Regions from separate parts of the Homo sapiens genome. Here regions 1 and 3 are each linked to region 2. Evidence: fine-mapped expression QTL. A gene starts in region 2. Each other region holds a variant in brackets. All regions are shown on one strand. Distances are between the middles of the regions.

The links. PIP is the estimated chance that this variant, and not a neighbour inherited with it, causes the effect.
Region 1: its variant is the best candidate, but not a certain one, in a credible set for the expression of CNTN5 in aorta (GTEx, PIP 0.58).
Region 3: its variant is the best candidate, but not a certain one, in a credible set for the expression of CNTN5 in tibial artery (GTEx, PIP 0.86).

Annotation. Positions count from the first base shown.
Region 1 is chr11:99,179,551-99,190,513 of GRCh38, reverse strand. The region is part of intron 1 of CNTN5 (contactin 5); the gene reads right to left. Among named protein-coding and RNA genes, the nearest start is that of CNTN5, 160 kb to the right of the region's middle. The variant C/A (reference allele first, on the strand shown) is at 6,163.
Region 2 is chr11:99,015,553-99,026,515 of GRCh38, reverse strand. CNTN5 (contactin 5) reads right to left here and starts at 5,567. Exons shown (of 25, transcript NM_014361.4): 1 at 5,246-5,567. RefSeq lists a silencer at 2,990-3,190.
Region 3 is chr11:99,501,028-99,511,990 of GRCh38, reverse strand. The region is part of intron 2 of CNTN5 (contactin 5); the gene reads right to left. Among named protein-coding and RNA genes, the nearest start is that of CNTN5, 490 kb to the right of the region's middle. The variant G/T (reference allele first, on the strand shown) is at 6,367.

The sequences.
Region 1 (10,963 bases), 160 kb before region 2:
ATTAATAATATGAAAATGTTCATACTACCCAAAGATATCTACAAATTCAATGTAATCTCTTTCAAAATGCTAATAACATTATTTGCAGAAATAGAAAAAAATCTTACAGTTTGTATAGAACTACAAAAGACCCTAAATAGACAAAGCAATCTTGAAAAATAAATAAATAAATAAGCTAGAGGCATCACACCTCCTGATGTCAAAATATACTACAAGGCTATAGTAACCAAAACAGCCTGGTACTGCCATATAAACACAATCATAGAACAATAGAACAGAATAGAAACCCCAGAAATAAATCCATGTGTTTATGGGCAATTGATTTTTGACAAAGGTGCCAACAGTGCAAAATGGAACAGGACAGTCTCTTCAATAAATGATGTTGGGACAGCTGGATATCATAACAATACAATTAGATCAGTATCTAATACTACATACAAAAATCAACTCAAATAAGTTAAAATTCAAATGTAAGACTTGAAACTATAAAACTACTAGAAAAATACAGGGAAAAGTTTCATGACATTGGTCTAGACAATATTTTTTTGGATAGGAATAAAAAAGCAGAGACAACAAAAGTAAAAATAGAAAAATGGGATTACATCAAACTAAAAATCTTTTGCACAGCCAAAGGAACAATCAATAGAGTAAAGGGACAACCTATAAAATGAGAGAAAATATGTGCAAACCATACATATGATAAGGGGTTAACACCTAAAATATATTAAAAACTCAAAAAACTCAACAGCAAAAAATGAATAGCCTAATTAAAATGTGGACTAGAATACATATTTTTCAAAAGAAGACATTCAACCTGTATATGAAAAAATGTTCAATCATCAGAGAAATGTAAACTAATAACTAATCATCATAGAAATGTAACTAATCATCAGTGAAATGTAAATCAACACCACCACGTCACTTAACACTCAACAGAATGGCAATTATTAAAAAGAAGAAAGATAATAAGTGTTGACACGGATATGGAGAAATGGAAACCTTTGCATAGTGTTGGTAGGAATTTAAATTAGAACAGTCAATATAAAATACTACACAGAGGTTCTTCAAATACATTAAAAATAGAAGTGCCATATGACCAAGCAATCCCACTCATTTTTAAAAGAGATAAATCATTATGTTGAAGACATATCTTCACTCCCATGCTCATTGCAACATTAGTCACAATAGTCAAGATATGGAAAGAGCCTAAGAATCTATCAAACGATAAATAAACACAGAAATGTAGTATAAATATATATGTACGTGTATATATATGTATAAATGTATATTTATGTATACACACACACACTATGGAATATTATTCACTCCACTCCAAAGCCTAAGAAAGAAATCCTGTTATTTGTGTAACATGGTTGAACTGGGAGGACATTGTTTTAAGTTAAATAAGCTAAGCACAGAAAGATGAATACCACTTGATTTCACTTATGTGTGGAACCTACAAAAGTCAAAAATCACAGAAGGAGAGAGTAGAATCAAGGGTTGAGGGAGGGAAGTGGTTGGGGAAATGTTCAAAGTTCGAAAGTTTCAATTAAAAAGGGGGAATAATTTCAAGAGATCTATTGTACAACATGATGATGATAGTTAATAAAAATGTATTATATTCTTGAAAATTCCTAAGAGAGTAGAAAACTGCTAAGAATGTAGAAATAGAAGTATGTCTGTTAATGCATATGCTAATTAACTCAATTAAGACATACCACAATGTATACATATTTCAAGACAATATGTTTTATCCAATAAATTTTTTTTGTCAATTAAACATAAAGAAATTAGTAAAAATACTAACGAGCATAAGCATGAGAACGTATTTAATATCAGACCAAATAATACATGCTCCTTTAAAATTCTTAATGGTTATAAATAAAAAGAAATAAAAATATTAAATAAATCGTGTTCCTTTCATATAGTGGGATATAAGAAACATTAAAATCATGTTTTGAATAATTGCAGATTGTAAACATGAAAGTTGCTCAATCTCACTCTTGGAGAATTTCTCTGTTTCTATACACTGAGAGCTCATTTCTCACCTATCAGATTGGCAAAACATAAAAGTTCTGACAACATGTTCTGTTGGCAAGACTGTGATGAAAGGGACATTCTCGTACACAGATGGTGAGATTGAAATTGGAAAGGGACTTGGACACCACTAGCAAAATTACATATTCAGTCACCTTTGAATCAACAATGTTACTTCTAGGAATCCATATGAAAGTTAGACTGCCAAAATAGGAAGTGACATATATACATGTTTATTTATTCCACCATTATTTGCAATAATAAAAATAAAGAATTAACCCAACCTTATACCATCAAAGGACTAGTTGGACATACTGTCATATGCCTGTATGATATATAACTAATCACCTATAAAAAGAATAATTTTTAATACAAAAATAAAGTCATCTTCAGAATATATATGTGTTAAAATGAAAATAAAAAGTGCAGAATGGTGTTACTATATGCCAAGTTTTGTACAAGAGAAGAAAATATGAATATGTATATTTTCATTTGCTCATGCATTTGTTTATATTTATAATAGTAACCACTGGAAGGAAAAGTCAAAAAGTGATCAAAAAAGAAGTGTTCAAGGATGGATTAAGACTTTCTTAAATGTATAATGCTATGTGGTTTCTGACTCTCAGATGTTTTGTATTTAATAATGTTTTACATAATTATAAATAAAATTAAGGTAAAAAGTCCCAAAAAACTATAAACAACTCACCAATTTAAATATTAGCATAGTGATATCACACAAAAATTGCTTTAAGTGATTGAAAGCACAGTATTTTCATAATGACAAAAGTTGTGTATTTAATCAGATCTTCATACATATAGTTTGTAGTAATATTGGATAAGTTCATTTGAAACCATTTTTGGTAGAACATAAAATTAAAAAGTAAAACTCAAGATATTCATCATAAGAATACATAAAATTGAAGTAGTTAAAACATTGATATTAAATTTGTATTAAAATAACATATCTCAATTTGTTATTTTAATTCATGTTAAGATACATGGAAGGAGACATGTTATTTTAATACAAATTGTAATTTGTATTAATATAACAAATTGTAATTTGTATTAATTTGTAAATTGTAATTTGTATTAAAATAACATGTATCCGACTCCAAAACCCCAGTAGATGGGCAGGGTTATACATCTAGGGTGCCACTGCTTTCCTTTATTTCGCAGACTTCTCTTTATGTTAAGTGCTGCCTGGGGTTATAAGAGAAGAAGGTACATTTTTCATTACTTCACCATCTTTGATTGTAATTTTCTCTCTCCTGGTTGTCTGCTGCTTCTTTGTTTCTTACTGACCAGTGCCTCTCTATAGAATGAATCAAAATGCTGGATTTATCACTGGATACACGTAGAATTTTGGAGAGAAAGCCTGGTGAGATGCTCCTGAACATCTCAGTACCTCCAGGTACTTCCTGTTCAGTTGCCTCTGGGAATTCCTCCATTAACACTCAACCCTCTTAGATCAGGCAAGATAGCTCTCATTGTCCATTTGACTCACAGGAAATGTTTGAGAACTGGCTGCTCAACCCTCATTTCTCTATCTACTTTGCCCTCTCTCTACTATTCTCTTTTTCCATTCTCAGCCTCAAGGAAGATCAACAAGGGCAATCAGCTACTCTTGCAGGAATTAAGATTCCAGGCTTCTCCTTTCAGCCATCCCCTCTTTTAATAAGTAATACTTTTAGGTATCCCTGTCACTTGATCTCTTGCCTTCCCTCTGGTCTTATTTTACAGATTGAGAAAGTGGTCACTTTTCTAAGAAAAGAATCTGTCCCATTGTCAATGTTATCTCCTTAGAGAATGTGGGTACTGAAAAGCATTTTTTTCTTTAACTTTGTGTTCTTGAAGATAATGCCATCATAGTAGAAAAAGTCACATTAACCATTCTCTTACAGTGGTATATGAGATTGGCAAAAACTCAATTTGAATTAAAATAAAAAACTTTCTTAGAGAAATCTAGATGCTGCAGGCAAAGTATACAAAAACCCAGTTCAATTTTACATTAAGAAATCATGAAAGCTTATCAACAGAACAGTATTTTTAAAATGCAACCACAAATTACCAATAAACAGAAAATACTGTGCCCAATAAAAGCAGAGCTGATATAAAAACTTTAGAATGTCAGTGAACATTACTGCAATCTAACTCTACAAGGTATGAGTGCTATAATGTGAATGAGGGTTTAAAGTAGAAAAGTATTTCTCTCTATTGTGTTTTTAGAAACCTTGAGTAATGGAACTCTTCCTCCTTCTGTGGTTCATAATGGAATAAAATCAGAGAAAAATCTACAATAAATTTTGCTTCATAGGACACATAGGTAGAAATTTATGTTGCAAACTAGATTTTATTTTTATATAATTATCTCTAAGAAAAATTTCTATTTTCTCCCATCTGTTGCTTTAAAAGAATATGTAACATGGTTCTCCATCTGCAGAAGCTATTTTTGATATATTCATAAACCTTTATTTTGATGGGTTATTTTTAAATTGTGATAACATTTCTCTTTATTTTATTTCCTCTCCTTAATTTTGATGGGTTATTTTTAAATTGTGATAACATTTCTCTTTATTTTATTTCCTCTCCTTAATTTTGATGGGTTATTTTTAAATTGTGATAACATTTCTCTTTATTTTATTTCCTCTCCGTTATTTTGATGGGTTATTTTGATGGGTTATTTTAAAATTGTGATAACATTTCTCTTTATTTTATTTCCCCTCCTTTTTTCACCAAAGAGAAAAATATACACTTTCAGCTCCAACTAAGTACAAAATTTAAATCATTAGCTCACATTGTCTAGTTATTGAAACTTTTTAGTTCAGATTTAGTGCATTTATTTCCTTAAAAATATAGTAGACAAAGGGTAAAAAAAAGTTCAATGCAGATCTTAATTAAGGTCATAGGGAAAAAAAACTTTTGAGGATTTCACTGTATATTGTTTTGTACCTAAAGGCAATTATCTTCTAAAAAAGAATAGGCCATTAACTCTGAGTTCAAAGAAATCAAGATATTTTATTTTTTAAGGAATTAGTCTATTTTAGTAATCATTTTCTTAACTATCATTGATTCACCCAATCGAGATTACTTCTTAACCTATCATTTACAAGTTTAATTTTAGGTGTTTTTGTGATCCACTCCCACTATAGATACTCAATAAATATTTGTTAAGTGAATGAATAAAAAAAATCTTTAGTTATCGATTCACCCTAATCAGCCTATTCATATAAGTCTCATGGCACCTCATCTCTTCCTATGCTCACCCTCTCTACACAATATCCTTCCAAATATTACCTGAAAAAGAAAGTCTTTTCCTTTTTTTCTGTTCTTGTTGATATTTTCTTTCTTGAATTTTTGGCTTTTTTTCTGTGTTCTCCAAAATAAAAGATGGGGCAACTTGGTTTCTCCATTCATATTATTTTTTTCTTTTTCTTCTTTTGTATTTTCTTAGGTGTATGTATTTAAGCATCTAATTTATGTCTAACTTCAGTTCAAGTTTCTTTATCATCTGGAATTGATTTATTTAATAGGTTTGATTATTTAAACGTTATACACGATCAAGAAGAATTTCAAAACCAATGACTAGTCTTTTATCAATGAGTTTTCTAAAAATATCACTTTTAAAATTTACAGTGTTAAATTTCATTTATTCTAGCCACTGCTATTTTTAGGTATAGGGCTGGGATATTATTTTCCAACCAGCTACTTTATTTTCCATCATTACACACACAAAAAAATCAGATGTTCATTGTTTCTAAGCAAAGTAATACACTTCAAGCTGTATGGCAGTGTGCCATTTTAAATCATTTTCTTTGCACTTCTTGATAATCATGGAATTATATGATATGACACTTATTAAGTAAGATTCCATAATGGCTATTGACTATTTCAAGTGCTAGATAATAAGCTAGAGGGCAAATATGTTAAAACACTCACTATATAAAATGTTGCAATAAGAGAAAAGATTTTATATGGGTATGAAGGATGGCTGCCTGGAGGAAGAAAGCTGGCAGGATTGGAGAAGATTTCCCATAGCAGTTACATCTGACTTAAATTTTCAAGAGGATTGAGAAATTTGCCAAGTTAAGTGGTGAGAGCAGGAGGCTTTCTGAGCAGAGGGAGTAG[C/A]AGCTGTGAGTTCATAAAATTGTAAGAGAACATGGCACACTCAAGTACTGTCAGTAGTTAAGTAGAGACATAGTATAATGAGCAAAAGGTATGTGGGGGAGATGCCAAGAGCACAGATAAGCAAAGAAGAGTATTCACATCCATAATGAAGAAGTAAAATTTTATCTTGAATTTTTCTAAGGGGGTGACAAATACTTTTAAAAACTTCACTATGGTGGAAGTAGAATGAATTAGAAGTTAAAAAATTGAGATTAGGAAAACAGTGTATATTTTAACAGACCAAGCAAACCATAATGACAGCCAGAGTGGAGGCAATGAGAATGAATACAATGCTGCATGGACAGGTTCAAGAAATATCAGATAAGTAAAATTTGTAAGTCTTCATTCATCTATTAGATATGTGAATAAGGAACAGGATAACATTGTTTAACTGACACGGGCAACAGAATGGGTAATTAAACTATTAAAATACAGAAACAAATTTTAAGGTTAAGATATTGAGTTAAACTTTAGACATGGAATTTTAAATGAAACCAGCAAATAAATATCTAGTAAGAAGTTAGCTACATGGGTGTGGAGTTTACGCAGTTAGGTTGGACTAGCCAGTTTCAGAGCTATCTATATATTGGTGGGCCATTAAACCAAAGGAGTAAATGAGATTACCTGAGCAAATGGTATGTCAAGGAAGAGAAGAAAACCGAGGATAGAGCTTTGGAGAATACCAGCACTTTAGGGGTCATTAAGAGAAGACAATTTTGCCAGGAAGGTAAAAAGAAATACCCAGACATAAGAGAAACACCAGAGAAACAAATACCATGAAACTAAGAAAGGAGATAATTTTAAGAGGAGAGGAGTGGATGATTAATGGTGACCAATGTACCATGGGTTTGAGTTGCCTACAGACTGAAAAGAGTCATCTGACTCAGCAGCAACAATAGTTATAATGATCTCTGCAAAAATCACTTCAGTGGAATGTCACTTAGAGGAATAACTTCTATCTGGTTTCTGAAATAATTTCTACAGAATGGTTTGGAGTCCTTGAAATTCTGAATTAAGTTTCATGTATTCTTTTAAAATTTCTCTTCAATAGACAGTATCAGAGGAAATTTCATCACTGCCTGATAAGCAGGAAGATGAGAAAATGTTATGGTGTTGCTTCTAGAAGCCTAAGGACATCTTTAGTGAAAGGTTAGTTTCCAGTAGATAATATTGGTGAGATTAAAACCTTTTGAATATAGTAACCAAAATTGAATGTAATCACCATGACTAAATAAGAAAAATGGTCAGCTAGGAGTCTAAGCAGTCATTGATTCAACAAAATATTTGAGTGGCTTCTATGTGACAGGTCCTATGACAGATGTTTATTTATATATATCACATAATCTACCCCATTATCTACTAATAAACTATTAATGATTAGTTTATTTTAATGCTATCTACTATCCTTTTAGCATCTTCTTGATTGCATATTATATTTTAAATTATGTTAATATTTCATTACACAGTGAAGCTCAACGTCAGGAATTACATGTTAGAACACATGTTACCACTGTATGCTGTAATAGATTTTTATTACTGAAGCAAACTGTTACAATGTTATTGGTATATACTGGCTTGACGACTAAATAAAGGAGCCCGAGTACGTTAAAAACTGGAACTTATTAGAGAGTAAACATTTTATCTTTGATTTCTAATTTTTCTTTTTCTTTGGCCCAGACTTCTTGGATGATGCCCAGAGGATGGAGGGACTCTAGACATCTGGCAATAGAAAAAAACAAGAGAATGTTCTTGATACACTCACCATGTCACAGCATTGCAGAGCTCCTCTAAGATGTTACCCACTTTGGGTAGCTGTATTTTTATCCATAATTTATTAGTGAATTGTTATGAAAAAAAAATGCCTGTGTATAAAGCCACTCTGCCAGCTAATCCCCAGAGGAATCTTTACTGGAACTATTACTTTAATGAACAAAGCATTCCTACAGAGCATGACTGTGAGGTACAACATTCAATAGTGCTTCATTCCTCTTTATTGTCGAGTAGCTTTGTGATAAAATAATGAAAGCAGCATTTACTTCAATTTGACACTCTACGTATACTTTGCCATATCAAATGCTCATTTTCAAACTAATAGTATTAAAATATGAAAAATTAATGGGAAAAAGCAATATCCTCACACTGCCATTGTCACTGTTTTCCATGTTGATGCTCATGCATCTTCGGCTTTCTCTTGACAGACTATTTAATCAGCGGGCAGATCAACAGGGCAAAATTCCCACCATAACTGCAAACTTGAATGTGGATGAGTGGATTACAATAAGTTTAAGTCTTGCAATGAGAGGCATCATAATGTATGGTGATATAATTGATAGTGATTACCAGGGAGAGTTAAAGGTCATTTTATATAATACCACTCCAGATTCTTTTGCTATATAACCTCAGATGCGGGTTGCTCAATTGTTAGTGGTACCTTGTCAACAATTAACCCCCAAGGAAATTTCTGCCCCAATAGAAATAACATACAGAACCGGAGAATTCAGGTCCACCAAAGGGGGCAACTTAAATCTTGGAGCCAAAATATGGGTACAGTGTCCATCAGATCCTGCCCCTAAGGCTTGTGACCTTGTAGCTATAGGGGCAGAAAATGAAGGCATAGTACTATTTCCTAACGAAGAAAAATAATGCATCCTCCCCTCCATTTTTGTTATTACAGAGAATAACCTGTCTGCTAGTAATCAGTACCTGGGTCATCATGTCTTAGGCTGAGAATGAGTTCATCAACTGGGTAGCCACCGTTGCAACGCAAGCCAACTGCAGTCGGTACTGGCTATGTGTGGAGTTGCCGCGGGAGGCCCCCAGGAATGGGCTACCTTGGAGAATCATCCCTGCTAACATTTCTGGATGGATATGCCAATACCAATGGGGGTGGGATAATAACACTTGTAATCCAACCTGGACTTCTTTTAACCAAACAGTCTATTTTGCCCAAACCCAAATGAGACACAGCACCTTTGTTACTTAAATTACACATGACAGCAATACAATTATAGTAGAACTCTTCCTGTTCCCTGGGCGCCCTCTGGGCACGTGGATCCTACGGGTGGCAATACCTGCCCCCACTTGGACGGGGAGATGCACTTCAGGGTGGCCATTAATTACATTCAACATCCAGGATAATAGTCCCCTCCCCAGTAATCTAGATGCTTACAAACATCACTGATTATGAATGCACCAGACCCCCTGGTGGTGGTACCCCATCACAGTATTCTCCCCTGCCACCGGTACAATCCTGCTTCAGCAACAAATTAAAATATTGAGCTTACACGTACAAAAAGCTCTTAATGATAGTAGCACTGGACTTACGTTGTTATAAGATGAATTTGCTCAGCTGCGTACTGTTATGTTGCAAAATCGAATGGCATTAGATATGCGTACCGCAGCCCAAGGAGGGGTTTGTGATTTACTGCATATTGAATCTTATGTGTATATCACTGGCAATTCTCACAATATGACTCTCCTTGCAAAGCCATGGTGGGTGTGGTATTTTATTAATTGTGCTTCTAATTCTCCTGTGCTTACCCCGTATCTGTAATCTATATCGACTATGCCTTCCCTATGTATCTGTAAGGGTATTTTCCTACAATTGAGTATCAGATGGAGGCCGACTGTGAAGGGAAAGTTAAATATTAAATTTGAACTCAATTGAACATGGACACAAACAACAGTCACCAAGTCCCGAAACAGGTTGTGTGAGCTCCTTGAGGCATTCATCCAGCACTGTTTCAGAGAAATCTCTATTTCAATCTATTCCTATATGTTAGTTATCGGAAAACAATAGACAATCACAAAAACAAGTTGACCTTTTTGTGTTCCTTGAGCCCAGTCACAAAGAGCCCTCTTGACTGGACCTTATGCGAAACAACTCATTACAAAAAGAGTTAGGGTCCCAGACTGCGCCGAAACTTCATGAGACCTCTCCTCGCCTGTGCACAGACATGAGTGGCCAACTCTGGAGCCGAGACTGTTGCTTCCCAGTCTGGTGGTGAATCCTCCATAGTCTGGTGAGTGTAAATATCTTTTCCCTTCTCCCTTTCCCATTGCAATTTGCTTATCATATCAATCTGCTTACTGTATCATCTGCTTATTATTATATCATTTGCTTATTATATCAATCTGCTTATTATATCATTTGCTCATTACATCTGCATTGCCATTTACATGGGATAAAGGTTTTTTACCCTTTAAGGTAGTGTGTGTGTGTCTTTTCTTCTCCCTCCCGTGTTTCCCACACAGAACAGGAACTTACTAGGTCGAAAACATTTATTACTACTTAAAGGTAAGGATACCTATAATAAAATATGCTGTTCAGGGAGATATAGAGAGAATATAATATTTTGAATACAGTAACTAAAACATAATACAAAAACGCAAACTGAATAAAAATAGTGGTTGACTTTTCAATGTTTGAAGGATATGAGTTCTATCTAAAGTCACTTACACCCAACACACACATACACAGGAACACACACAAACTACCATCACCACAAAATCTTATTTGGCTACATTACTACAGAAGATATCTGTAACACTTATGTCTCAAAGAGAATGTAGCAACATGAAATTAAACACAATATGAACAGCACCCAAACTGAGGCAAGTGTGGAAATTATTGTGATGTGACTGTCTAAATTAAATTAGAAATAATCCTATTTTATCCTTTGATACAGCCTTTGGGCATATGGATCATATGGCATCATCCTGAGTTGTAGGAGTGGGGTAAATGTAACCATAAAATTACATT
Region 2 (10,963 bases):
CATTAGAATAACAGCATCACAGAAGGAGGAAGAGAGTATTAAATAGAATTATGAAGCTTAGAGTTTCAATTCTCTTATCAATGCCATAACTTTTGAAATTCTTATCATTGAAAATACAAAATTAGAAAAGAAATAGTGGTCACTAACAAGTTGTTTTAATAATTTTTGCTATATGGGAGATAATATTAAGCCAGTCTATATCTTTTAGAAAAGAATATGAAGAAGAAGGTTTTAAAATAACAAAATAAGGCAAAATACAATACCTAACAGATTAAACATGAGACTTTTCACAGTGTTTTCAGATATATTTGGGGTCAATCTGTTCCAGTGCCCAGGAATTCCTATCATATTTAATGATCATGAAACTGCCAATTAAATAAAAATGTATTTTTAGAAAACAATAAAATTCTTTTAAAAATTCCTGTTGTCACTCACCTGTAACTTCCAATAATATTACTTTTAATCATCAGGGATTTTGTCTAGTTTAGTACACTTAAAGGCTCAAGAACAATAGTATCTCAACAAATATTGCATAATTGAAAGTAAGTTCTTGCATGTAACTGAAATGGGAGAACCTAGGTGAATTAGAATAGTTGTTCTAAATTCTTGAGTATTGCCTTTATATTTCGTTTAATTTCAGAAAAAAATCCTTAATACTTCTAAGTATAACATTAATTATTTAAGAAAATAAAGATAAAACTTTATATACTTAAAAGTAAATTTCTCACAAAATCAACATCCCATTTCTCTACTATTTATATGATAAATACAAACTCCTGCAACTAATGAAATATTTGTAAAAATACATTAATAGACCTGGTTGCAGCTCCAGATACTTTATTACTATCATTATAATATCTCTCGATGAGAGCATCTCAGTATTTTTAGCCTCATGATGAATGCTTCTGCCAATATTATAACTCACAAAAGGAAGAGAATTTCAATCAACTTTTTATCACCTATATAATCAGCAACATTTCTCTTCCTAAACATATGCTACGTTTACTACTGGATAGTAATGGAAGATGAGATGTTCTCCTTTCTGGGTTGTTAGCAGCTATAAGAATCCTATGAAGAACATCTCTACGCCCTTCATAAAATGTTTAAATATATAATTATACTTTTCCAGTCAATGGTTATGAAAGAGAATTTTTGATCATTCAGATAAATGAAATATTCCTTGCCTAAAATGCAATTGCTTATTTGGATTCTGTTCAGTTTAGTCACTTTCCCTTTAATTGGCTCCATATTTTCTAGTAAAGATACTAACTGTAACAATATTTTTCATAGAAAACTCATAAAATGTATTGGCTTCTTGCTTTTTATCTAGATCTCCGCTCTATGCAAATTGAGTGTGAGAAATATTTGGAAACATGACTGGCATAAGAGGAAATAGGTGAGTCCTGTCGGATCTGTTATGAGAAGGTCATTTGTGAAAATAAATAAATAAATAAAAAGTGGCCATTGGGCAACAAGTTATTTAGATCATTATGAGTTTTTAAGAACCACTTAGAAAAAGAGAAAAAACAACTTTACACCCGTGTTTTAAAATGTATCTAATGAAACATTTTCTGAAACGTTTAAAAATGGCAGTGATCACAAGAAATTCTAGCTTAAGAAATACACAGGAAATGAATATGACTGTAATTTCTTAAGATTCTCATGAATGATAGATCTCACACTATTTTATATTAGATTAAAAATGAGATTCTTTTTTTTATTTCCATAAAACAGACAATCTTGATTTATTTTTCACAATTACTTTGTGGCCTCTCTGGAAAGTTCCCAGTTCCCTGCACTGGAGAAAAGAGAAACTACCATACTTTGAATAGCTTTGTAACACGTATGAGCTTATGTTTGAGGAGGGTATAATGTCAAAAATATAACATGCACTACTCTGGGATATAAAACTAAAGACGTGTGTTTTAATTTATGGGGATTAATAGACATAAAATTATCTACAATTAGCTTATGCAAATATTTATAATAGGCAAAACATAACTGAAGTTATACAGTGTTGTGTCAATTTCTTGGGATTCAATTCAATACTTCAAAATAATTTTGATGAAAGAAATCCATTGTAAAACCAGTTTTCTTAAAAAGCAAATTCATGTTTCCCTTTAAAAATTGCTTTTATAGCCACTGTATTAAAACACTATATTTTGTGTCATTCAATTTAAATAAAATAATTAACTAAAACACTGTTTAAGTGTCTGGAAAAAACATAAACTAATAATATTCAGTTTATTAGAACACTTCTAACAATACACATTTGAATCTCCAAAAATCATAAAACAGGATTTCTTACTTGAGTGGGTAGGGAGATGGAATATAGTTCATAATAGTTTTTAATCTTAAATCTTAAGCATTAGGAGTTTTATATACTTCATTACTTTTTAAAATGTACCAGCCTCTAATGTGGAGTTATTGATCACAAATGCTCAGAAAATAGACCTCTGCAGTGATTCTACCGCTTTGAGCTTCCGACCAGTCTCTTTCCTGCTATAAAGTGTTAAGAAGTTCATGTAACATGTTAGCACAGCCTTACAACACGGTTCTTAACATCTTGTGAGAAACATATTACTCTCTTACTTTATGCTTGGATTGTCAGAAAGAAGAAAGAGAGATAAAATCAACTCCTGGAGTCAGAATTTCAAGAAAACAAACTACATGAATGTATGAGTTTATTATTTAAAGTAAGAGAAATAAATTTCCAACGACTTGGTAAAAATTTAAAAACCCGTATTTTAAAAGAAAGTTCAAAGACAATAGGTAATCAAGATACATGAGAAAGAATGGATTCGGCAAATTACAATATTGTAAATATCTGAGCCTCATAAAATTCTGGATTAGTTTTTGACTGATGAAGGAGACACTAAACTCTGCTACAACTTTGTTTTAGCCAATCAAACTCTCTACAGTCAAATCATCTTCACAGTATTACAGCCATCTAGAGAAGTTTTCATCATTTTTATTTTAATCTTCACAAATTATGCCTTTATTTTGTCTAGAAGTAAGACAAACTCCAAAATGCTTTGGCCAGCCTATGCGGGCCCTTTGCCCTTTACTGGCACCCTCTGGTCCATATTGCTAAGTCAGCTGTGACAGACAATCACACTCCTACCTCTACCCTGAAAGTGGTCAAGATTTTCTAAACTGTGAAGTAAAAGAGACATTTAAAGAAATACATATCAGCCAAACCTGGTACATTTCTAACAGATAGCGCTACTTAATTGGACACATAAGATTGAAGTAAATTTTTACATGCTACTAATTTTAATGATTCATCTTACATAAACATATTCTATGTATAGATTCATGATTTGATTTCAGGTTGGCTCCCTGACTAAGAATTGTTTCAGACCACCTAATACTTGAAGTACTAACTGCTCACCTTGAGAAACATTCAGGTATTTCAGCTATTCATTTAAAAATTCCACAACTGTAGCTTTTTGGATGTATTTCCAAAAGCACCTTGGTGTGCATGTGCCTCACAACTTATAGACAAAGTCCGGCATTTAGTTAATCTATGGGATTATATTTTTATATAACTTTTAAGAATCTAACTTTCTGTTCAGTTGTCTATGGAATCAGAAAGAAATTAAAATTAGCAGTTTTTCTCCTCCTTTCTCAATTTTCAGAAGTTTTAAATAATTTAAAGGATACACCAATTCCTAAGCAAAAACACTGGCACTTGTAATAATCATTTCACTGACTTTCTATTTTCAGATAGGCTTTAATATCATTCCCTCACACTCCAGCTATTTGTCAAATTCTATTCTTTATATTGAATTTCCCTTTTTATAACTTTAACTCTGATTTTTTTTGCCTTTTTCCCTTTAATGGACTTAGATGATCTTTTTATGTAATATCTTTAATTTGTTATCATTAGTTTTATATGACATATTCTTACTCATACCTCTTTTCGATTAGAGTCAGAGTAAACTTATGCCTGTTAAGTTTAAGACTCAGCATACTAGTCCCCACTTAACTTAGAATAATTTGAGCATGAAATAGGAGAATATGCAAGCAACCATGAGAATTGCTCAAAATTGACTACAGGCATTTTCAAAAACAGTTAATGACCTAATCATTATTTTTTAAAATACTGAGAGTCACAATATTAATCATAATGAACTCCTTTAAGCTCCCTGTAATGGTCATAAGTACTTCTGTAATTCTGTTGCAATTCAACAGTAATCGATGATATCTGCATTAATTTTTAAATTTGACTATTTGTCTATAATTTTAAATGCTAGTATTCTAATGAACATCTACTTCTTTCATCCTTATTTCCACAGTCGTAATTGAGAATCAAAGTAGAAGTATTGACCCTCTAAATGATTTTCTCTTTTAAATTAAGAAACAAATGAATGAAATGTAGGTAAGGCATTGAACATACAACAGTTTAAAAGTTTTTTGCTTCTCACCTGCATTTAAATTACCACATGAAATTGTATTTTTCTTGGGAGAACAGTTCTAAGATTTAAAAGTAATATAATTCTAAAATATTTAGTGGATTCTGGTTCTTTCGCAAATAAATATAGTTGAAACAACTTATTGTTCAGGTCATCAGAGTAATTCTCAGGTTTGTGTATGTGCAAATTGATATTCTCTTCCGTATATCTCCCTACAAAACATGGTAAGGATGTCTGAACATAATTTTTTAATCTATCACAATCCTATACAACCTTTAGAAAAAAGCTCAGCATAATCCAAGATACAGTTTTTCTCAGTCTCACGAACTTTGTAGAACTCCACTTATAGAGCATCCCTACTGAATTTTAACAAGTTATTGCAATGCCAGATGCCCAATTATTTAGTCTCGGAAACTCATTGCTCAAACATAAGGCATACATTCAGTACCTGAGAACGGCATCCTATTTTCCAAACATTTAGTTTCTTTTGTAGAAACATCCTCACTTTATCCTGGCATTTATTGCCTTACAATTTGCAATTTGCGTGTAGGAATTGCTTACTCTTATTTTGGGTGGCATTAGGAGATATACAAATAGGTTATATTTACTCTTGTTTCAACTTTTTGCCATAAAATCCCAGCAGGAAATAAAGTCGTGTTTTGTTTCCTTTATTTAAAAAAGCTTCATCTTACAGTTTTTACATTCTGGCAACATGGCAAGAAAGGATGGCTTTGCAGAACAGAGTGTGTCAAAAATCCTAAGTGGCTGGGAGATGAAGTGCACAATCACAGAACGCAGTCACTGGCAAAGGAATGTCAGCCACTTACCAATAAGATGCCAGACTCCACTGTCCTTCCTCTGTGACTCTCAATTCCTGTCTCCCATCCTCCTGCCCATCAGCACAGTTCAGAGAGAGCGGTTCCTCGGGTCCTTTGCAGCCTGTGGCAGAGGCGAATTGCGGAGTTCTTAATCATTCAGAGGGAATCCTCCAGCTTGCCCTGCCTCTCGCAGCAGACGGGACCCAGGTAACGCATCCTCTCCGCCCCGAGCTTTAATGGCACTTTGGCTGCCGCCTTCTCGCAGTTCCGCTCCCCCACGCCGTAGTTGGTTATATTGGGAAGTAGGTGCGGCGCCTCCTGCGGCTGGTGTGTTTGGGGCTCGCGTGTTTTCCTCCAATGCGTCCGCGCGCCCTGCGCCCCGCGCCTCTGACTGGCTGTGTCCTCCCGGGGCGGCCCCTCGCCCCTCCCCGGCCGCCCGCGCTGTCACCGGCGCCCGCGTCCAGCGCCTCACTGCCTCTTGCTGCAAAGGTTCATTGAGCATGTCCCTGGGCTTAACGAACTGTGCGCCTCCCGGAGGGTGCTCTGTGTTTCTCCACTCGTCTCACTAGTCAACCGGCATTTTCCTTCCCTGCTAAGTACAGAGGACCTGCCCCCCTTCCCCGAGCGTTTCTGCTCTGCAACCCCTCCGTATTTAACATTCATAGATTACAAAGCAAACGTGCTGGCTGGAGTCGGCACGGGAGATCCAGGCGAGAGTCCCTTCCTCCGCTCCTGTCTTCACTCTGATTCCTGTAGTCCCCGGCTCACACCTCTGACAGCAGCAGCACAGACTGACGCGTTCACTTAGGTCGGTTTGAGAGTGGACTTTTTCACTTTGCAGAATTTTCTTAAGTCCTGAATGGGAAGCACTTCTCTTTTGTTTCTGCACTTACGCGTTTCATCTAAGGACTATCAGGCTCTGCCTGTTTATATTTCTCTTTGATTTGGGGTGTTGACTCAGTTCTAAAAAAAAGCGAAGGAATGGTCTCAGCAACCTTTTTTTCGGAATTTTTATATTACAATGGCTGTAATTGGAAAAATAACACAGGTAGTAAATCCACAGTGTGGCAGCTTTAGTGCCATTGTTCTGCCAGTCCTCCTCTCTACTTTTTTTTTTTTTTTCCTCTCAGTCTTTGAGTCGTTTTCCAATTCCCACGATTGGGCTGATGGTAATTGGGTATTTGTTAAATAAATTATATAACATTTCCTTTGCAATATATTTCCATAGAGAATGTGGTTTGCACCTGTATTTAATGGAAAGGAAATCCCACGTACTGCTTTCTATCTCTGTGTCTGTATAAGAAACTGCATGGGAGTCTAGGGTCGCACCCCGTGTCCGCTGGTGTCCGTTTTTCATGTGTGTTTGAGAGCAGCCTGACCCTGGACTGACGCTGATTCTTCTGCTCACTGAATCCCCCGATGGGGTCTGACTGGCTCTAATTGGCAAGGAGAGTACAGTGCCAGGCAGCCTGTAGCTGGAAGCCGTCTACCACTAGCCCTGTGTTCTTTCTCTTGCAGTTTTTCTGGTAATTAAAATTAGTCTTTTCCTGTTTCTTGGCTGCTTCTCATTCATCCAATGATGTACAAACACCCAGTCTCTGCTTTTAATCGCTATCCTCAGGATCTAGGCTGATTGCTTGTTCTGTAGCAAAGACAAATTTGTGTGCATTTAATACTTCTCCACTCTTCCATACTTTTTATATTCGTGTTCCTGCTTTCCAGTAACTAGGTTATCTTCTTTATGTGTTAACTGAGGGATCGTTGTGGAGATTCCCCTTCTGTGGCTTTTTCTCTGCCCCACTGGCTCTTCTCCTCTGTCAGGCTGTCGGTTCACAGAGAGAACTACCAGGACTTTTATAACCACATTAAATACATCACAAAATAAATTCAAAGTGTAGGAGCTCTAACGCATTCTTTTTATTGTTCGATGAGGTTTTTGCCTTTAAAAGTGTATAATTGAGCACATGCAGCCTGAAAGAGGGATCGGGAGTGTAGAAAGCTTTCTGAAAGTTCTCTTCCCTTCTTAGAACACCATTCTATATTACCCATGATCCGATAATTTGGGCATTTTGAGTCATTATGTCACATAATTTCTTTCAACTAGCTTTGCCCTAGAAAGGATGTAAGTTGGCTTATAAAAATCTATTCAGTTTAAAAAAATGAATAAAAAATGTAGGTCAGTGAGATCAAGACAAACGGTAAAGTGATAGGAGGAGAGATAAGATGAAGCCAGAAATGAGGTTTATAGAGAAAACTGCATTGATGTTTTTGTTACAAATGGTGCTAGGTCTGCCATTAACTTTGTTAGCAGCCAATGTAAAGAAGGAAATGCTATCGGTCACATGATTCATGGTGCCCTCCTACCATTAACATGAACAAGAAAATTTACCTTTTACATGATGTAAATGGACTAAATATTTCTCCTTTCTTAAGCAAGAACTAAATAAAAGCTTTTAATGTTTCTACTTTTTATAAAGAGAGCAATATTATCACAAGACTATGGTGTGAATATATTTTTGAAACAAGTAGATAATGTAATAGCACTTTTCCTTGCGAAGTTATCTGATGCTTTAGAGGGAGAGAAAGGAAACGTTGAATCTGTTTAATTAAAAATAGTAAGGTCTATTTCTGTCAGTTCAAATTTAAAATGTTGACTTCAATCATTATTTGGGGGTGACTAGGTTACCTGGCTACACTTCATTCAGGACCCAGAAAGAGTGACTATATTTATTCTCATGTCTTTTATGACTTTTAATGTTCTAATTTGTAATAATATACAATTATATATTCCCTATTAATATCTATATATGTAACAGACAAACTGTTAGTCTATCTGACTCATCTTTCTTTAGAATTTTGCTGTTATGGAGTTAACTTATGTACTGTATATTTTTACAATTTTCTGCTTGGAGAGTAAGGGCTCTATAGATCAGGTACACTTCTGTATCCTTTTATATCCACAGTGTTCAGGTTTAAGCAGGTCAATGTCTGGAATTAGAGAAACAACAGTGCTTAAAATAAGAAACAAACAAACAAAACTCCTTGTTAGAGTTCCACTAAAAAGAAACAAACTACCTTGTGTTTTCCAAGTAAACATCAAATCTTTTCACATACCATGACCAAGATTTTCTACTATTGACATGTGAGAATGGGATTTTAAGTTATAGTTGTTTTGATGTAAGATTTGTCTTTAAAAGATATAAAAGTATGTATGCCCCATTATTAAATTCCAATGCTGTTTTCTTAATAAAATGGCATTATTAAAAGATCACTGGTTTTCTCTGTTTGATGCTAATGACATTTTTGAATTAACCAGCTCATCCTGTACCCTGGTAAAATATCATTTGTACATTAAGTTAATTAAAACATTGTTTGTAAGTGGGGTAAGTGGTTCAGTAGGTCACTTTCTCTATGCTATGGTTATGACACCTCAACCTAGCTGTCATGTTGCTGATCTGATCTTGTTGTCTAGCCATCTTTGTGTAAATGTCTTAATCTCTTTATCTCATCGTCCCCAATGGGCAAGCAAGCAGATGCAGCACATCTGTAGCAGTTGAGGTGCCTCTGAGCTTTTGTCTTATTTGTGTAACAGATTTTTATTGAAATCATGCCCTCCTTTCTCTTTCCCTTCATTTGACTCAGATAAGTTCTAGGTTCTAGTTAACAGATCATAACTATTATTATGTTCCATCAAATCATAGCATAACTGTAGGGAAGCAGACCAATGGTGAATTCATGTCTAGATCAGTCATCTTTCTTGGATCATCTGCCTTGCCTACTGGAGCTTCTTTTAGCATTTGCATTTTCTGTTTTGATGTTTTAATCCTCTATGTTAATGTGTTACCAATAATGGTGAATGGGTAAGTACTAAGATAAAAATTAAAGGAATCAAAATCTTGCATTTTCAATATATGCCAGTATTCCCTATAAGTGCAAAGTAACACATGAAGAAGCAAAAGTAAACTTTTACTTGAACTGGACAAAATATGATTTTAATTATATTTTGAGTTTCTTAGAAGATGTGTCTCAGTACTCATATCACAGCTGTTTTGTGAAAGCAGAAGTAAACATATCTTAATCAGACTTGGAAAATATACCAACTTAATTAATTTAACAGCTGCTTCAGTAAACAACGCTAAAGAACATAGTCTACTTTGTGGATGTCTTGATAACATCGGCAACCAAAACCATTAAGAAGTATGAGAGAGGAGCTCTAATTCAACTGTGGTGGTCAAGCTTTTGGTGGTCACAGTACCAACTCTTACTTACAGAAGCTGCAAATATCTAATCTCCTGTAGGTGGAATTTATGCTCACCCTTTGTGACATTTTGGTCCAACTATTTATGCAAACCATAAACATTTGCAGTTAATTAAGATTTTAGAAAATAGAAGTAAAAGTTGAAATCTTACTAATTTAAAGGTAAAGTTTACTTAGTTTTCATCCAGTAGATTCCTTTAGATATGCATTTCTATTTTTTTTTCTTGGATATATTTTAAGTCTCAGGATCTCTATCAGTTTTAATTCACTTACCTTTACAGATGTCTAATTTTTCTTTTATGTAGCATTCTCTCACCAAGACCTCTGGATATAAAGTTGTTTCCATAAAGAAACAAAACCAAAGATTCATTTGCTCATGACCAGGTAAATACCTCTGTATTGTCACTGTTTACATACCATTCTTCTCAGTATGGGATAAAAATGTCTAATGGTTTCTTAGAATTAGTCTAATTTGTTCTTTATGGTTTTAAAGAATGGCCATATGTGTGTTGCATCTTGATCATTTCCCATCTCTTCCCTGTCTCCCAAGTCTGTCAGGTACATTAACTTGACCTGTCTTTGATATTTGGCCCTCCATCAAAATAATCATCCTTCAAAAATATTGCTATCAAATATGATTCTCACCTTTATATATTAGACATTCCTGGTCTCATCTACAATATTTCCAAAATGTACTTAGAATCCAGCTTAAAACATTTTGTGTAGATCTTTAGGTGTAGAACTAGACTGTATGCCTCCTGTGGACCAGGAACTAAATTCTTCCACCCCTCAATCTGATATACTTTGTGTTTAAATTTTTATTGGCTGAGTAGCGTATATATAGGATGTCTCATTTGTTTGTCTGAGACTAACTCCAAGAGACTGCATTATAATGAAGAAGCAGAACATTTTCACCACCTATTTTTTTTTTGTTCACCAATAAGCCTGTAGTTAGCCATGTCTACCACTAGATGGCACTCATGCTCTAATTAGCAATGCCATTTAAGTTCTGACCTAAGGATGTTCCGATTTTTTAGAGAACTGAGAGGAACCCCAAATTAGCAGTTGAAGCTATAAGACAAGTTGTATAGATTATATGACATGAAGTATCTAATAAATACATTGGCAAACTGCAAAATGTCAGAATGTTTCGAAGGTACCCTTACACTCAGTGGCAAAACAGGAGCTATTAACATTTGTTGAGGGCTAAGTATACACTAGGCATGTAAGCATGCTTGAGATGAAATGTTTAATTCTGTATTAATGAGCTAATGAAACACAAATCTAAGTAAAGTGCCTCCACCATAGTGTTCTTAACTTGTTCACTAAACAAATCCCCATTTTAATTTGAATAAAAGAATTAGAACACCACAAAACAAGTTGTTTGTATCATATCAGATTAACATACCTCACATATAAAGAATCCAATTAATGGGGAATAGTTTTAGCACAAGTGCAATGCAAGGTAA
Region 3 (10,963 bases), 490 kb before region 2:
AGCTTACTGTAATTAATTTACTTTATAAACTTAATTTTGTAAACTTTTTTGACTCATAACATTGAGCTTAAAACACAAATGCATTGTAGAGCTATACAAAAATATTTTTCTTTTTTTATGCAACTACATATTCAAAATTATTTATTTATTTATTTATTTAAATTTTATTATTATACTTTAAGTTTTAGGGTACATGTGCACAATGTGCAGGTTAGTTACATATGTATACATGTGCCATGCTAAATATATATGCACCCAATACAGGAGTACCCAGATTCATAAAGCAAGTCCTGAGTGACCTACAAAGAGACTTAGATTCCCACACAATAATAATGGGAGACTTTAACACCCCACTGTCAACATTAGACAGATCAACGAGACAGAAAGTTAACAAGGATACCCAGGAATTGAATTCAGCTCTGCACCAAGCAGACCTAATAGACATCTACAGAACTCTCCACCCCAAATCAACAGAATATACATTCTTTTCAGCACCACACCACACCTATTCCAAAATTGACCACATAGTTGGAAGTAAAGCTCTCCTCAGCAAATGTAAAAGAACAGAAATTATAACAAACTGTCTCTCAGACCACAGTGCAATCAAACTAGAACTCAGGATTAAGAAACTCACTCAAAACCTCTCAACTACATGGAAACTGAACAACCTGCTCCTGAATGACTACTGGGTACGTAACGAAATGAAGGCAGAAATAAAGATGTTCTTTGAAACCAACGAGAACAAAGACACCACATACCAGAATCTCTGGGACACATTCAAAGCAGTGTGTAGAGGGAAATTTATAGCACTAAATGCTCACAAGAGAAAGCAGGAAAGATCCAAAATTGACACCCTACAAAAATATTTTTCTTTATGTTCTTTTCTATAAGATTTTTTCTATTTAATTTTTTTTAATGTTTACGCTTTTTAAATTAAAAACTAAAACATAAACAAACACATCAGCCGAGGCCTGCAAAGGGTCAGGATCATCAGTATCACTGTCTTGCCCCTTTACATCTTGTTCCACTGAAAGGTCTTTAGTGGTAATAAGATGCACGAAGCTGTCATCTCCTATGATTATAATAATGACTTCCTCTGGAATACTTCCTGAAGAACTTGCCTAAGGCTGTTTTACACTCAACTTTATAAAAAATATCTGAAAGGAGAACATTCTAAAGTAATGATGAAAAGTATAGTATAGTACATATGTAAACCAGTAACATAGTTGTATATTATCATTATGTAACTGGCAGTCCAATAGTTTTGTTTACAGCAGCATCACCATAAACGTTGAATAATGCATTGCAGTACATTACAAAGGACACAATGTCACTAAATGATAGGAATTTTTCAGCTCCACTATTGAAGCACCCTCATATATGCAGTCCATTATTGACCAAAACATTGTTATGGGGTACATGACTGTATGCATACTCATATTTTGTATGAATGTGTATATGTACTTTTCTGAAGCACATACAACTCATACTAGAACTGCTATGTTGCATCCATTAGTTTTCTGTTAACAAGATTGTAGACATGTTTAAATATCAGTAATATTAGAAGTCAGATTTCTAGGTCAAAAGATGCGTGCAGTTTCACTTTGATAGTTTCTAAATTGCCCTCAGAAAGGTTATGCCAGTTTATACTCTCACCAACAGTGTTTGAGAGTCTCTTTTTTTCCCACACCTATAACAACAGATAAATCTTTCAATCCGATATGTTAACAAAGGTCTCATTGTTTCATTTACTTGGTTGTAAGAATGGTTGGCTCTGATTTATATACTTGTTGCCCCATTTTGTTCTTTCTGTAAGCACTCTCTGCTTGTGTCTTTTGACTATATTATTATACAATAATTATAAAGGCTAAAATATATTGGATAGTTATTCTGTGCCAAGCACTGTTTTAAGTAATCTGCCAGTATTACGCAATTTAAGCCCCATAATAGAAACAAGAATTATTTTAATTTTCATTTACATTTTTTTTAAAATTGAGGCAAAGAGAGATTAAGCGACATTTGTATATAGACTTACAGAAATATTAATAGATGGAGTCAGAACTTGAATTCAAGCCCAGTAGTTTGTGTGTTTACCTCCTGTGCAGCATTACCTTTTATTATCACATTGTTTGAATTTTTCATACTATGTAGGGAATACTTTTTCTAAGTTGAGAAAATTAATTCATAACATTAATAAATAGATGTATTAAGGAAATTACCCCTATATTAAATGATCAATAATCTCTTTTTTTCTCAGTAAAATATTTTTTATTTTTATTTATTCATTTTTGTGTATATTTTGTTTTCATTAAAAGGTTCTATTCAGATGTAAATCAAAACCTCTGGGACATCATACTATTTTATTAAGTTATGAGACTTCAAAAATTCAATCACTTATTTTGTTGTATCAGAGTCTAAAAATCATTTTGGTCAGTTATATTTTAAAAGACTGCTTTAAAATTTCAACAGCACCTTCCCTTTTTGCTCTTTCTCTTTGCCAGTTTAACCAATATCCTTATCTCTTCTCAGTGAACATGAAGAAGAATTCACCATTTCTATTTTGAATGTGCACAGAGATTTGTATTAAATTAATCTTAATTTCCTCTATTAAATTAAATCAAATTAAATCTTTAATGTTTGTTTACAAATTTTTTGAGAATTTTTCATGTACGATGGTGAACTGACTTTAGTTTTTTAGTACACCCTGAAAACAAACAAAAAACAAGAATGACAACTCTGCTTTTTAAATGAAGATCCTAAAGAACACAGGGATGAGCTCAAAGACATTTTCTATTCTTGTTGGCCAAATCTTCTGAAATATATATGAGAATTCCCTTTCATAGGTATAGTACAACATGATGATTTATATTCAACTTAGTACTTTTGGTTCTAAGATATATTCCCCCCATATCATATCTGTGTAAGTGTTGTATCTTTTTAAAATTAGATGGTATTTTTTTCCCACTTCATATTTACACTTTATGTATTTATTTATAAAATTTATCTTGGCGGCCGGGCATGGTGGCTCACGCCTGTAATCCCAGCACTTTGGGAGGCTGCGGCGGGCTGATCACTTGAGGTCAGGAGTTTGAAACCAGCCTGGCCAATCTGGTGAAACCCCGTCTCTACTAAAAATAAAAAATTAGCCGGGCATTGTGGCGCATGCCTGTAATCCCAGCTACTTGGGAGGCTGAGGCAGGAGAATCGCTTGAACTCAGGAGGAGGAAGTTACAGTGAGCCGAGATCGCGCCACACCGCACTCCAGCCTGGGTGACAAGAACAAAATTCCGTGTCAAAAAAAAAAGAAAGAAAAGAAAAATTATATTATGCGTTGCTGAACCTGAGTCACTTCAGTTGATATAAAAGCCTACGTTTTTAAAGATTGTAATTTTATATACAGCTAATTGCAGTTTGCTCTCATTATCCATTGAGGAAGGGCTCCGCAAACCCTGTGGATACAAAAAGCTGTGGATGCTCAAGTCGCTTGTATGAAATGGTAGTACAGCCAGCACTCAGTATGTGTGGCTCTGCATCGGTGTACTCAGTCAACAACCCTGGATCCAAAAGCCGGCCCTCTGTGTCCACGGGTTCCACATCACATACGAAGGGCTGACTGTAAATGACAACAATTTTCTTTAAAATTATAAAATATTTTAAAATATTACCCAGTAGCTGGGGAAAAGGAAAGGCAGGCGCTTAACATATGTGCCAGTCATGAACCTAGGTATTTTATACAAATTAATTACTCAGAAAGCTTATGAGGCAAATATTATTATTTTCATTTTACAACGGAGTGGCTCAGCGAGATCACTACAAACTGTTTTGGCTCCCAAGCCTACGTTCTTTCTTCAGCAGGATGACATTTTATACAGCATTATCACCAAACATAACTCTGTCCTAACACTGAAGACATGTTTTGGACAAGAGTATATTTTGAATATGAAAATGTCATTTGACTATATTAACTTCCATTTTAGTAGAGCTGATGTTGCTCTGTAATGAAGTGAATAAAATAATAATAAAAACTAACATTTACTTCATAAAAACACATTTGAGTTAAGTTTTATAAAGCCATTCAAGCACTTAACTCACTCACTCATGTAATAGTTATTTATCTTGAACTTACTAGGTCCAGAAAAATACTCTGTGTTTTAAAACCTGGGCTCTACCCTACCAAAAACGGAAAAGAAGCTGGAAGAAAGCACTTGGAAAAGTAAAACATATTTACACTTGATGAAAAAATATGGCACGTGAAAAGTTGAGTCACACTTGTGAGGTTAAAATGTTTACTGCCAATATTTTTAAAACTTTGGAGCAGAATGAGGGAAAAATGTAAATATTCCATATCTAAATGTTATGTATAAAATATTAATATTATACTGCATTTCTTTCTAGAATATTTTCAAAGTACATCGTTTATGTATTTTAGGTCAATGTCTTGTTAGCTACACATCACAACCCATTTTTTGGTCAATAAATCACTTTAACAGGTCACAATTCAAATTCTTTTAAAATTAAATTAAAACAGAGAGAAAAAAGAAAATGTCAATATACATTATATTTAATGGGATGACTATTGTTTTGAAAAACCTTTCTTTTTTTTTTTTTTTTTTTTGAGACAGAGTCTCCTTTTGTTGCCAGGCTGGAGTGCAGTGGCACCATCTCGGCTCACTGCAACTTCTGCCTCCCGGGTTCAAGCGATTCTCCTGCCTCAGCCTCCCGAGTAGCTGGGACTACAGGTGCGCACCACCATGCCTAGCTAATTTTTGTATTTTTAGTGTAGAAGAGAGTTTCACCATGTTGGCCAGGATGGTCTCGAGCTCTTGACCTCATGATCTGCCTGCCTCGGCCTCCCAAAGTACTGGGATTACAGGTGTGAGAAAAACTTGTTTTATTTGTGTATTATGTATGCATATATGAGGGTCATAGGTACAATACACTTTTTATTTTTAAAAATGGAAACTAAAACATCTGAAAAACATTGATTTAGATCATTTCATATGTTAGATGTCAAATTCTGCTTTTTCATAAAAATAGCATTTTTCAACTTTTTATATTTTTTTAAATAAATACAATTGTCTCCACTCATATAATATTCCCTCAGGTTGTTCTCATTAAATTTGATCAATTACTTCATTTTGGGCATTTTGGTTATTGATATTTTTTACTATAACAAATAATGTAGTGACTTTGTTAGACTTTACATTTACTTTCTTGAAATATATTCCTACAATTACTACTATGAAGTAAACAGACAATAACAATTAAAACAGTATTTAGAACTACTGGTTATTTAATTTTACTTATTTACGTTACTACATTGAAATTCCTACTTATTTACAAGTAAAATGTGACATTACAGTAAATTTAGAAGAGAAAAAACACACACTTTTACTATACAAACACTATAATTTTTTTTAAGTATTTACTCATTGTTTGCAATGACTATTTTTCAAGGCGCAAATCGTCTACCTAAAACAAATCGCAATACTGAAAACTAAGAATAAATGAGAGGCACTGGTACCTGGAAAGGTGGACACAAGACAGAGGTGTGAACCTGCCTTCGTTTAAAAAAATAGAAAAGATATTTGTATAAGAATCTGCATAACATACACATTGTAAACAGAGAGCAAGATGCTCACATGATGGAAGAATAACTGTCTCATGCCATTAAAAAGAGAGAACATTTTTTTCTTTTTCAACAAAGATACTCAAAATTATGGAAATACTTATTTTGCATGGGGATTTTCATTTTTAGTACGATCCTGAGCAAGGGCCCCAGACTAATTTGCTGACCAAGAAATGATGAGCATGAGGACAAGCCGTACCATTCAGATTCATGGATCAAAAAGTCCAAGATCAACTACCAGTAACAAATGTTAAAGCTGTCAAAAAATACTCAGAGCAACAAGCTGGAATGCATTATGCAGCAGCCTAAGGTGAGGGATTACCTCCTGTTTATTCAGGCAGCTCAAATGTGGAAGCAAAAGCCACTGTACCTGATCCGTTATGACTTTGAAAAGTGAAAAGAACACACACTAGTTAACACACAGAGTTCGGAATTGGCAATTAGCTAGCCCTTGGCCTGAAGAGTGTCATTCATTTATGGACCAATGACCAGGAGCCTGGCAAAATGCTCCTTGCTGATTAGGTTCAGAAAATTCTAAGTGGGGAAAAGAGGAAGATCCTTTAGCAACACAATGAGGCCTGCATTTTTACTAACCTGGAGAAATGCAAAGGTTTGATATTATTTAAAAAACAAAAATGAAATTCAATGTGGAAAATCTGTTACATAGGGATTGGGGGAGGAGATATAATTGTGTTATCTTCCAGCATCCAAGCCTTACGTGTATAAAGAAACAAGAA[G/T]GTAATTAGGAATACCACAAGATTTCCCAAAGGCTGGATTTATCTTGTGTAACAAATTCTCTGGCAGCTTTCTAACATTGCTATTTGGGCCTCCTGTCTAAATGACCAGAGTGAATCATTCAAAAGTTATGTTGAAAAAAATTTATTAAGCTCTCAAAAAACTCTATTCTTCCCACATCATACTTGTTTCTGTAAATTATCCTGCATACTAACTCTTTCTCTCTTCTGCAAATACTATTCAGCAAAGCAGGACAGTGAGGAAAGCAGGACAAAGAGTACTGATAATCAATGCTCTTATATCCCAAATTTGTACAGATAATTTCTACCATTAGAGATTTACTACTTTGTGTCAGCATGTCTTTTTTTAAAATGTTAACATCAAATTGGGATACCATATAAAAGCAATAAATGGTCACCCATTCTTTAATATAAATTAAACAAGTCCAGCGCTTTCTTTCAAACAGCAAGTTTACTGTATAACTTGGGCGAAATGGGAGGTATGCTGAGAGAGAAGAAAGAAAACATACTGGAACACAATTGAGTCTTGAGAAGAGGCCATCCCAGTAGACATAAAGTCAACCAGAAGTCAGAAGTGGGACAAAAAGGATCTGACTTAAGAATTTATTAAGTGGCTGCAAAATATTCAAAGACTATTTTATTTCTGCTTGCCTCTTTCCCCTGCTTTTTACATTCTCTTCTCCTTTCCTTTTTCACTTAGAATTAGGAGAGCAATAAACTATGGTTTCTGCACTCAAGAAGTTGTGGTCTGTTAAGGAAAGTAGCACCAAAGACAACTATCTGTAATGCAATTTCAAGGTCAAGGGAACTCTAATCACAAGTGGTTAAGTCTATGGAGTCAGCAAAAGAAGGTTTCAAAGAGTGAAGAATCTTTCATTTGGAGCTTGAAGAACGACTTTCTAACAATTTACTTGATGTTACAGTAACTTCCTGCTTAAAATCCAAAGTTCTATTAAAAATATATACATTCATCCACAACAAGAGTAGAAATATTAAATCAGACAACTGAATTGTTAGTGTGTCTCAAATGTAAAATTATATTTTAATTTCTTTTCTTTCTTTTTTTTTTTTTTTTTTGAGACGGAGTCTGGCTCTGTTGCCCAGGCTGGCGTGCAGTGGCTCACTGCACCCTCCGCCTCCCGGGTTCAAGCGATTCTCCTACCTCAGCCTCCCAAGTAGCTGGGGCTAAAGGCCTGTGCCACTATGCCCGGCTAATTTTTTGTACTTTAGTAGAGACGGGGTTTCACCGTGTTAGCCATGATGGTCTCGATCTCCTGCCCTCATGATGTGCCCACCTCAGCCTCCCAAAGTGCTGGGATTACAGGCATGAGCCATCACGCCCAGCCACTTTAATTTCTTTTGGATCATATAAGAGTAAAAACACTTGTCTAAACCCATGGGTGCTAGGATTATTATCAAAATATTAGTTTACATCAAAACTCTACCTTTTCTAAAAAAAGTCAGTTTGTTGATCATATTAAAATTACCTTAAATCTGTGCAGCCCCTGTTCACCACAGATTTATAATTCAAATACATTCACCTAAATATGGGTGAGAAAAATCTTGTAAGCCAAGCATCTCATTGAACAATTAACACACAAATATAAAGCAAAAAATGAATATTAAAAAGTAACATATAAATCACTGTATTACACTAAGATTTTTGTTACAAATACATTGTAATTTAAACGATGTATCTTGCTAATTTAACTCAATTTGGTTCATATTTATTGAATAATTATTAACTAAAATGGATTTTGCCATTAAAGTAGTTTAACAGAAAGGAGAAATGAGGTACAATTCCTTGCCATCATAGAATATAATATATATTACAAAAAAAATTCCATTATATGTAATAGATATAGATCTATTTATCTGTCTGTCTACCCATCTATATGTCAATTATCTGTTATATGCCTGGAACAGTATTATTAGAAGCTGCGGATGACAAAATAAAAGACCCAGGTTTTTGTCCTTCAGTACTTTGCAGTCCAACAAAGGTGAAAGATATATTAACAATCAAGTGCTATATTACAGATTTTGCCCTAAATTACATTGAGAGGCACACTTGTTTCACACTCACAGCATTGCAGAAAGCTTCCTGGAAGTGATTATGTCTGAACTGAGCTTGGGAGAATGCATAGCTCTTAGGTGGTTGAGAAACAAATGAATATGAGGCTGAGAATCTAGCATATCTTTTACAGAGAATATGATCCCCTTTTACCCAGACACGTTGCTGTCTTTTCTTGGGAACAAACTTTATTCATAGTTGTGTAGCAATAAATAAAGATGGATCACCCGGTTTTGACAACCCAAAGGGATGACAGGGTTAAAGAGGGGTTGTCTCACATTCTAGTAATTAGTGTATGCGAACATGGTGGGCATGGAATGACAAAACACATTAAGGAAGTGAAGGGAAGAAAGATGTAGAGTTACATAGGGAAAAGGTTATAGAGGAATACGCATAGTATAATCCTAGTAAGAACCATATTTGTCAAACTGCAAGTAAAAATTAAAAAGGACTTAAAAGTGCTATAAATAAAGATGGAAAGGATAGATATATAACAAATATTTAAGATATAAAACTGGTAGTGTTAGATACTCTTTTTAATATAAAAGTTTGGGAAATTGTAACCCAAGATAATTCCTAATTTTCTAGCCATGCAGAATGACTGAAATATGATGTCATTTACTAAAATGTGGACTGAAGGTGAAGAAAAATACTTTGGGAAGGAGAAGACATGTTAAAGAAAGGACAGATGAGTTTGAAGTGCCTTTGGCAAACACAGGTAAAGATGAAAAGTGAGACATCATATAGGTCTTTAGTTTACCTCTAGGAGGGTGTATGGTTTAGAAGAGTAGGGACCTAGAGCATAACTGTGCTTTTGTTGAAAATAAGTTACTGTTGGGGTGTATTAGTTCATGTTCATACTGCTATAAAAACTGCCTGAGACTGGGTAATTTATAAAGAAAAGAGGTTTAATTGACTTACAGTTCAGCATGCTTGGGGAGGTCTCAAGAAAGTTATAATCATGGAAAAAGGTGAAGGAGAAGCAAGGCACCTTCCTCTCAAGGCAGCAGAAAGAAGTGCCAAGCAAAGTTGTGGGGAAGAGCTCCTTATAAAACCATCAGATCTCCTTAGAACTCACTCACTATTATGAGAACAGCGTGGAGGAAACCACCCCCCCAACCCCCGTGATTCAATTACCTCCATCTCGTCCCTCCCTTGACACTTGTGGATTATGGGGATTACAATCCAAGCTGAGATTTGGGTGGGGACACAAAGCCTAACCATATTAAAGACACAAGAAAAAAATAGCAATATTTGAAATATTTGAAAAAGCATCGTTCTAAATAAATACAAATGAGGTAAAATGAACCCTGCTACCTGTACTGTTTTTCTCACCCTCTACAATACAGACTGTTGATAAAAACCATCCAACATAGATGTTAGCAATGGACAACATAATACAATTGAATTGTCTGTTGCAGAATTATAAAATAATGGAGGTGTTGAGGGAATACAATGTTATGAGGCCGAAGATTAGATACATGTACAATTTGTGGATTAACCTATGCAGGGGCAATTTCAGAAGAGCCATCAGCGTTGTACCTATGAATAATTCTAAGCCAGAAATCCCTGGTTGATGACCTGATTATGATGACAATCATTTACGCTAATAAAAGATGGAAAAGAAGATAACAGAATCACTAAATGCCTATGAGTCAGGCCTTCCACATTTTTAAAATCAAATACTGAAAATACTGACAGGTGAGTGTATCATCTTGGAGAATGTGAATGACATATGCAATGTCAAACAGTCAGAGAGAAAATTAGTTTTCAAACCAGGTGTGCCTTATTTCTAAGACAGAATAATTGCATTATTTTATAAATAAAGCACTAATAATATTTGCTGAGTGGGTAATTGAATGAATGGTTGAATCACTGATTCCACTAATAACAAAAATATCTTTTACCTGTGGATAAAATTCAAAACTTTTTTTGTCCTAAGAATGGGCTCACTTGCTACTGAAGAAGCAAATCAGTTCTTTTGCAACTGCAGCATCTTGCCTGATGCCAGGAGAAAGTGGCTGTGTCAGTGGTTTCTTGAAGGATGCATGTACATTTCAGGTTTACTTAGTTGGGAAAGGACTCACAGAGGAAGTAGTTATTTCAAATATTCTTTAAACTAAATGTTAGTTAAACAAATCTAGGGTTATTTAAACCTATTCTGAATGATTTGCATTAACTTCAATGTTTTCTCCCTTCATAATTGGCTTGACCTGGATCTCATTCATTTCATGAAGGAGCAGAACAACCATTACTATAAAGCCAATTGCTGAGCAGAAGCTTGTCACTGAGCGTCCCAATTATAATTCCAGCAGAATAGTAGATTCAACTCAATTCTATGAACAGCACAGAACAGCATAGGTGATTCAACCATTCATTCAATTACCCACTCAGCAAATATTTATAGTGTTTTATTTCTGACATAATGCAATCATTCTCTCTTACAAATAGAACACATACACACACAGATGCACACAAACACACACAAAACAGAGAATATATACAAAT